2 separate regions of the Homo sapiens genome follow, and region 1 is linked to region 2. The links come from fine-mapping of genetic effects on gene expression. A gene starts in region 2. The other region holds a variant in brackets. All regions are shown on one strand. Distances are between the middles of the regions. Region 1 overlaps GYS2 (glycogen synthase 2). Region 2 holds the start of SPX (spexin hormone).

Region 1 (4,000 bases), 57 kb before region 2:
TGCCACTTCCACTTCCACTTCCACCCTTTGATTCCTGGACCCGTGAATCCTGTCTATGGGAGAAACAGTACCATATATTGGACACTGATTCAGAGCATACACAGCCTTCTGGAGAACTTTGCCCCAGGCCTGCAAAGTATTGTCACCTAGTTGGCATTGTAATCGTGACTTCAAAAGGCCATTCAAAAGCTGCTTCAGGATGATAGGGATCATGGTAAGACCAGTAAATTCCATGAGCATGAGCCCACTGTCACACTTCTTTAGCCATAAAGTGAGTGGCTTGGTCAGAAGCAATGCTGTGTGGAATACCATGACAGTGGATACGGCATTCTGTGATTCCATGGATGGTAGTCTTGGCATAAGCATTGAGTTCAGGATTGGGAAACCCATATCCAGAGTAAGTGTCTATTCCAGTGAGGACAAGCCTCTGCCCTTTCCATGATGGAAGAGGTCCAATATAATCAACCTGCCACCAGGTAGCTGGCTGATCACCCCGAGGAATGGTGCCATATCAAGGGCTTAGTGTTGGTCTCTGATGCTGGCAAGCAGTGGCTGTGGCCAGGTCAGCTTTGGTGAGTGGAAGTCCATGTTGCTGAGCCCAAGCATAACTTCCATCCCTGCAACTGTGGCCACTTTGTTCATGGGTCCATTGGACGATGACATGAGTGGCCTGGGAAAAGGCTGAGTGGTGTCCACAGAATTGATCATCCTATCCACTTGATTATTAAAATCCTCTTCTGCTGAGGTCACCCATTGGTGAGCACTCACATGGGATGAAAATATCTTTGTAGTTTTTGACTAATCATAGAGGTCCATCCACATACCTCTTCCCCAAATTTCTTTGTCATCAATTTTCCAGTCATGCTTTTTCCAAGTCCCTGACCATCTAGCCAAACCTTTGGCTACAGCCCATGAATAAGTATATAATCGCAAATCTGGCCATTTCTCCTTCTGTGCAAAGTGCACAACCAGGCACACTGCTCAAAGTTCTGCCAACTAGGAAGATTTCCCTTCACCGTTGTCCTTCAGGGATGTCCTAGAAAGGGGCTGTAGTGCTGCGGCTGTCCACTTTTGGGTGGTGCCTGCATATCGTGCAGAACTATCTGTGAACCAGGACCTAGTCTTCTCTTCCTCTGTCAGCTGATCATAGGGAACTCCCCATGAGACCATCGGTGCAGTCTCAGGGAGAGAAAGCAGTGTGTCAGGAGTGGAGACCATGGGCATTTGAGCCCCTTTCTCATGTAACTTACTAGTGCCTTCAGGATCTGCTCAAGCCCAATCGCATATATACCACTTCCATTTGCTGATGCAATGCTGCTGTGCACAGCCCACTTTATGGCTAGATGGATCAGAAAGCACCCAGTTCATGATAGGCAGTTCAGGTCACATGGTGACTTGATGACTCATAGTCAAATATTTCGTTTCCACCAAAGCCCAGTAACAGGCCAAGAGCTTTCTCCCTAAAAGAGAGTAGTTATCTGCAGAAGATGGCAGGGCCTTGCTCCAAAATCCTAGAGGCCTCCGCTGTGATTCAGCCTGCCAAATGCTCCAAACAGCATCCCTATCTGGCACTGACACCTCAAGCATCATTGGATCTGCTAGGTCATATGGCCCAAGTGGCATAGCAGCTTGCACAGCAGCCTGGACCTGTGGCAGAGCCTTCTGTTCTGGACTCCACTCAAAACTGGCAGCCTTTTGGATCACTCGATAAATGGGCCAGAGTAACACACCCAAATCAGGAATATGTTGCCTCCAAAATCCAAATAGGCCCACTAGGCGTTGTGCCTATTTCTTGGTTGTAAGAGTGGCCAAATGCAGCAAATTATCCTTCACTTTAGAAGGAATATCTCAAAGAGCCCCAAACCATTGGACCCCTATAAATTTTACTGAGGTAGAAGGTCCCTGAATTTAATCAGATTTATTTCCCATCCTCTGTCCCACAAATGTCTCATC[A/G]ATAAATCCAGTGTGTTTGCTACTTCTTGCTCACTAGTTCCAGTCAGCATGTCATCAATGTAATGGACCACTGTGATATCTTGTGGAAGTGAAAGGTGAGCAAGTTCTCTCCAAATAAGATTATGGCACAAAGCTGGAGAGTTGATATACTCCTGAGTTCATCATTTTCTTTCATCACTTTGTCCAGCGAACTTACAAGCAACCAACCAACTTCACTATGTTCCTTGATTCTCCACATATAGTCAAAAGTATTATGTATACAGTAGCTAAATTCCTTGCCTCTCACAAGCGTTGAATCAAGAGTGTCAAATGCATTTATTTTGCATAACTCTCTAAACAATTGATGCCAAGGATTATCAGTGTTCTCCATACCATTAGAAGAAGAGTCCTTAGCATATTTGGGTCTAATCATATTAAGCAGCCAACTCCAGAAACCCCAAAACCAATGAAAGAACTCCATCCTTAATATTCTGTTCCTCTAGAACCACTCCTGGTACCAAAATCTGTATTAGGGTTCTACAGAGAAACAGAATTAATAGGAGATATATATCTATATCTATATCTATATCTATATCTATATCTATATCTATCTCTATATCTATCTCTATATCTATATCTATATGAGAGTTTATTATGTAGTATTGACTCACATGTTCACAAGGTCCCAAAACAGGCCATCTGCCAGCTGAGGAACAAGGAAGCTAGTCGGAGTCCCAAAGCTGAAGAACCTGGAGTTCAATGTTCCAGGGCAGGAAGAATCCAGCATGGGAGAAAAATGTAGGCTGGGATGCCAAGCCAATCTAGCCTTTTCACATTTTTCTGCCTGCTTTATATCCTGGCTGTGCTGGCAACTGATTAGATGGTGCCCACCCAGATTAAGGGTGGGTCTGCCTTCCCCAGCCCACTGACTGAAATATTAATCTCCTTTGGTAACACCCTCACAGACACACCCAAGATCATTACTTTGCATCCTTCAGTCCAATCAAGTTGACACTCAGTATTAACCATCACAGTCACTTTCTAATGAGGTTGGTTTTTTTGTTGTTGAGTTCCTTGTAGATTCTGTATATTAGCCTTTTGTTGCATTCATAGTTTGCAATTTTTTTTTCTCATTCTGTAGGTTATCCGTTTACTCTGTTGATTCGGTCTTTTGCGGTGCAGAAGCATTTTAGTTTAATTAAGTCCCATTTGTCTGTTTTTGTTTTTGTTGTGTTTAGTTTTGAGGACTTGGTCATAAATTCTTTGCCTAGGCCACATCTAATTTTTAATCCTCTTTTAGAGCCTGTCTTTCCCTCCAAACTAAATATTATTTTACCCCCATTTGACACATGAGCTAATTGAGCCTTCTGTCTGTTAAGTAAGTTGACTAGTTCAGTGTAAGTTGTTTCTAATTTTTTGCCATCATAATGCTTTAGTAAACATCCTTTTCATACTCTCCTTAATTTTCCCCCAGGATGGTTTTCTAGATGTGGACTTGCTGGATCCAAAGTGTGCATATTTTCCAAATGTATCCATATATTGTGGCTTTGTGTTTTAATAGAGGTAGCAGCAATATTAGAGGAGAGAATTAAGGAACGATTCTAGTGTAGCAGGACAAGCTGCATACAAAACCCCTCAGACACCGAGTTAAAGAAGGAAGGGCTTTATTCGGCTGGGAGCTTGGGCAAGACTCACATCTCCAACAACCAAGCTCTCAGAGTGAGCAATTCCTGTCCCTTTTAAGGGCTTACAACTCTAAGGGGGTACATGACTGGGGGCTGCATGCACTGGTCATCAGAATGGAACAGAACAGGACAGGGATTTTCACACTGCTTTTCCATACAGTGTCTGGAATCTATAGATAACATAACTGGCCAGGTCAGGGGTCTATCTTTAACCAGGCCCAGGATGTGGTCTCAGGCTGTTTGCCTGTGGATTTCATTTCTGCCTTTTAGTTTTTACTTCTTCTTTCTTTGGAGGCAGAAATTGGGCATAAAACAATATGAAGGGTGGTCTCCTCCCTTACTAGGAAGAGAGAAATACCATGTGAGAATGAAATACGTATTTG
Region 2 (4,536 bases):
GCACACCCTGGCAGCCAGAGGGCTGGCTGAACAGCCGCAAGCCAATAAGGCTTGGGGAGCCGCAGCGCCAGCCTGGGCCGCCCTTGCCACCATTGGCGCGGGGCTGGACGCGCGAGCTCCCAGCTCCGGCGCTCGGCATCCAGCTGCTGCTGCTGCCAACCCGGGCTGCCCTCGGGCGGACTGTATCTGAGGGCGCCTCAGAGCCGCGTCTTTCCGGTGAGGAGACGCTTTCTTTCGGCACCAGCGCGGAGCAAGCCCTGCCCGCCCCATCCTATTCCAAAAGCGCAGGACTAGCGCCCTTGCACCCTTGGTCACTCACCCGGCAGTGGCCGGTCGGAGAGGTCCTTTCTCCGGCTCTGGTCGGAGATGAAGCGGCGACCCTCTGCAAAAACGAGACCTGGGGCTCAGCGACAGCCTGGCCCGGGACAACCCGGGCTTAAACCTCAGCTCCTCCCGGCACAGCGCAGTCCCCGGGCGTGGGGAGGGGGCAGGTTGCTCCAGGATAGGGTCGCGCGGGGCTGCCGAGTTTCCAGCGCTCCCAGCGCAACCCCGGGCTGAGCCAGGGGCCCTGGAGCTCTGGAGGAAAGCCCCGCGCCTGACCGGACGCCGCAAGGGCGCTTTGGAGCGGAGGTCGGGTTACTGAGATATTTCCCAGGCAACCCGAGTCCCCATTTGGACCAAGAGAAGCAACCCTCCAGTTTTGGATGGAGAATTTCTAATAAGGATGGAGGATTTCCAATAATCAGGGACTCTTCCCCTCTCCCACCCCTCCCTCACCTACCGGTCTCTTTGATGGCCTCGATGATTTAAGGGAATAAACTCGACATTATTCTCTCTCCATAACTCTCCATCTATCTGTTCCTGACTCCTAGGGGTCTTCCATTATTGTAGGAAGAGCGAAATATTTGGAACTTACGTGCCCCTTTCAGGTAGAGCATAGCTTGAGGAGTCCAGTTCCTTCTCTCCAACAGTCTCTATAGCCCGGGGGAAGGGAAGAGCAGTTAATAAAACATTGCAGCTCAGTCCTCTATTACAGCAAAATAAAGGAAAAAGAAGAGAATAAAACAAGAAGGAAGAAAGAAAGAGCAGAGTGGACACACAGTGCGCATTGTTTTAAAATTTTTTATTTTGCATTTGATTACCTGCGGAGCGCAGCTGGAGTTTCCCAGGAAAACAAACACCAGGAAAAGAGCCAAGGTTGTTGCTGCCAGACTTCTGAGTCCCTATATGAAGCGATCAACCAGAAAGGGTCATTTCTGTGCCAATAGGATCTTCTGCTTCCTTCCTTGACGCCTGGACAATTATAAACCCCCTTACTTCTCGCAATATTCTGTTTTAATACTCAGTTTTCTGGAGGTGTTTCCCTTCTACCTTCTAGTTAATTCACAAAGAGTCCACTTGAAAAAACGTATTTAGAAACATATTATTTGTATTACTTCACCCAAATGAAGAATAAGTAAATACGTGAATTTTTTTCTTAGTAAAATCAAATGATTCTGTTATTCTAAAGGCGTATCGTTCAAATATCCTTTAAACTCTAAAATCCTTATTAAACATGAAATAGGTAAAATGCTATAAAACGTTTTAAAAAATAGCTAAGAAGTCTCAAGTTAATAAAGCCTTTACTTACCTTCATGTTCTGCGTCTTTTCAGAACCCTGAAATAACTATAACTTTATCTGTGAGTTTTCGACTCTTGCTCTGAAATTGGAGCTTTTAAAATCTTGGTGTTAAGGGCACCTCCCCATCTGGAGTAGAGTTTGGGAGTCCACAGGGACATCTTGTCAGTCTTCAAGCAAGATTGAGAATCTGATGACTCCTCCAGGGAGCTTCATTGCAGGAAGTAGAGGAATGATTGATGGGCAGAAATTATTTGTTTAAATACTGATTGCATCACCCAGGAGGCCTTCAGAATGTGTCAGCATCATTGGCCTTGCTTTTCCTACTAGCTGCCCAAAGTAACATGTTATTATTATTATTAATGAAAACAATCAATAGTCCAAGGCAGAATCAAAAGTAAAAGAATAAATCAGAAAACTTTTCTTGGGTAACTAGCCATCAGTCTATCACTGATGGCTAAAGATGTATGAAAAGGTTTGGGAATCTCAATGGAATTTGACATCAGTCATTCACTTAATTATCAATTCATTCTGTTGTTTAGCAAATATTTATTGAGTGCCTATGAGACACACAATCCTTGTATTTCAAGGGACACAGCCATGCACTGAAAAGACATGGTCTCTGCTTTGATCTAAGTTACCTACTAGTTAAGGTACACAGTAAACTGATGAATAGATAAATAAGACACAGTAGTTACCCCTTAATCGTAGGTGTGTGTGGGGTGGAGGAGCATGTTTCAAGACCCACAGTGGATGCCTGAAACCACTGATACGTATATGCCTTATTATACTATTTTTTTTTATCTGTTCACCAAGATGGTTACTAACTGATTAATGGGAGAGTGGTGTTTACATATGGACATGCTGGACAAAAAGATGGTTCATGTCTTGGGTGGGCTGGAGCTGGACAGTGAGAGATTTCAACACCCTACTCAGATTTAAAGCTCACAATTTAAACTTATTAATTCTGGAATTTCCCATTTAATATTTTCAGACTGTAGTTGACCATGGGTAACTGAAACCATGGAAAGTGAAACCGTGGATAAGCAGGGACTACTGTAACTACAGAATGTTTTAAATTGTTAAGTAAAAGTAAGCAAGGTGATGTGATAGGATAAGTGGTGGGCTACTTTAGGGAAGGTTAAAAACAGAGGGTAGTCTTGAAGGATAAGGTGAAGTAATGGGAGAAGCTGGGCAGGAATTAGTATTCCAGGCATTCTCAATAGAAGAAAGAAAAGCAAAATCTGTGGACAGCAAAGAGCATGACTTGCTTGGGGACTAGGAAAGAGGCCAATGGAGGCAGCGTTGTGTGGGTGAACGGGGGAGGTGCTTTGAAATGAGATTGGAGAAGAAGAAATGGGCCAGTTGATGTGGAAATACGATTATAAGCAATAGATGATGATGGCTTACACTGGGATGGTACACACAGGGAAAGAAGAGCTGTAAATGAATTTGGAATACATGTTGTGGAGGTAGAAAATATAGAACTTGTATATAAAAGGGATATGAAAGTGTGAGAAAAATAAATCAAGGATGATTCTTAGGTTTATGGATAAAACTGTGGGTAAATTATGAAGTAATTTACTGAAATTAGAGAAACTTCTTAAGAAGCAAGTTATGAGAGGGAAATTAACACTTGCCATATAGGCATATTAAAATTAAAATGTATATTAAAAATATCCAAGTACAAGTACAAAATAGAAGGTTAGAAATGCAAAACTTGATAGAGGTCAGCCAAGAGGTCACCAGCCTACAGATTTTCTTTTTGGTGGGGGGCAGAAATGATTAGCTTTAAGAATTTTAAGAATTCTAAGAATTTTACAACCAGTAAAGGGATGAGATTAAACACAACACTTAGGGAGTGAATAGGGCTAAAGAAGAGTGGCAGGGACAGAGCTATGAAAACAAACGCATAGAGAATGAGCAGAGGAAGAGCCAGAAAAGGAGGTTGAGGTAGAGTCAGAAAGAAAGGAGAAATTCCAGGGGACCCTGATATCATGGAAGCCAAGTGAAGATCCAGTAGTATTGGGAGGTCAAGCAACATTAGCTCCAAGAAACATCCACTGGATTTGGAATATGATGGTTTTGAGGATAGAAGCAAGATTGGAGTTGGTTGAATAGTGAATATGATATGATAAATTAAAGCCAAGAATAAACAATCTCTTTTACAGATGTCACAAAAGAAGGGAAAGGAAAAAATGAGAATTTTTTTTACTGTTATTATTATTGTTATTGTTATTTTAAAGACAGGGTCTCACTATGTTGTTCAGGCTGGGCTGAAACTCCTGTCCTCAACTGGTCCTCCCATGTCAGCCTCCCAAACCTCTGGGATTATAGGCATGCTTGGCCTGTGAAATCTTTTTTTTTTTTTTAAAAGATAAGATAGAAGATTTGTTATACTTTTTGGGAAACCTTTCATTTCTAGGAAATTCCTAAAATTCCCTGAATTATGAATTATGAAATTATGAATCTTTTTGGGAGGCAGAGTGTTTCTTCTATTGTACAAACTGAAAATGCCAGATAGTCAGTTTTCTAGCCTCCCTATCAGGGAGAATGTGGGCATATGACACGGGCTTCACCAATCAGATGAGCATGCTTAGATGGGGAATCTCATGCCAGGATGGAAGAAGTGCTCGGGTGAAGCAGGGGTTGTAGTAAGATTGAGTTTCTGGAGTAGTCTTAGCTACGGTGCTAGTGGCAAGTTCCAGCATCCAGTGCTGTAGCAGTGGTGATGCCAGCTGCAGTGTCCTTTTAATAAAATCTTTGTTTTGCCCAAATCAGCCATGTTTATTGGTTTCTGTTGATGTGACAACTAAGAAACAATTTGTAAGACATGTATATTGATGGGGATGATCAGTAGGGAAGGAGAAATTCATGATGTAGAAGAAAGGGAATATAACAGCAAAAGGAAATTCTTA

The links. PIP is the estimated chance that this variant, and not a neighbour inherited with it, causes the effect.
Region 1: its variant is the best candidate, but not a certain one, in a credible set for the expression of SPX in whole blood (TOPMed, PIP 0.55).

What each region holds. Positions count from the first base shown.
Region 1 is chr12:21,581,138-21,585,137 of GRCh38, reverse strand. All of the region lies in intron 1 of GYS2 (glycogen synthase 2), which reads left to right. Among named protein-coding and RNA genes, the nearest start is that of GYS2, 22 kb to the left of the region's middle. The variant A/G (reference allele first, on the strand shown) is at 1,954.
Region 2 is chr12:21,523,573-21,528,108 of GRCh38, reverse strand. It overlaps SPX (spexin hormone), which reads right to left and starts at 1,813. Exons shown (of 6, transcript NM_030572.4): 1 at 1,631-1,813; 2 at 1,143-1,223; 3 at 917-974; 4 at 320-382. The coding sequence starts at 1,636.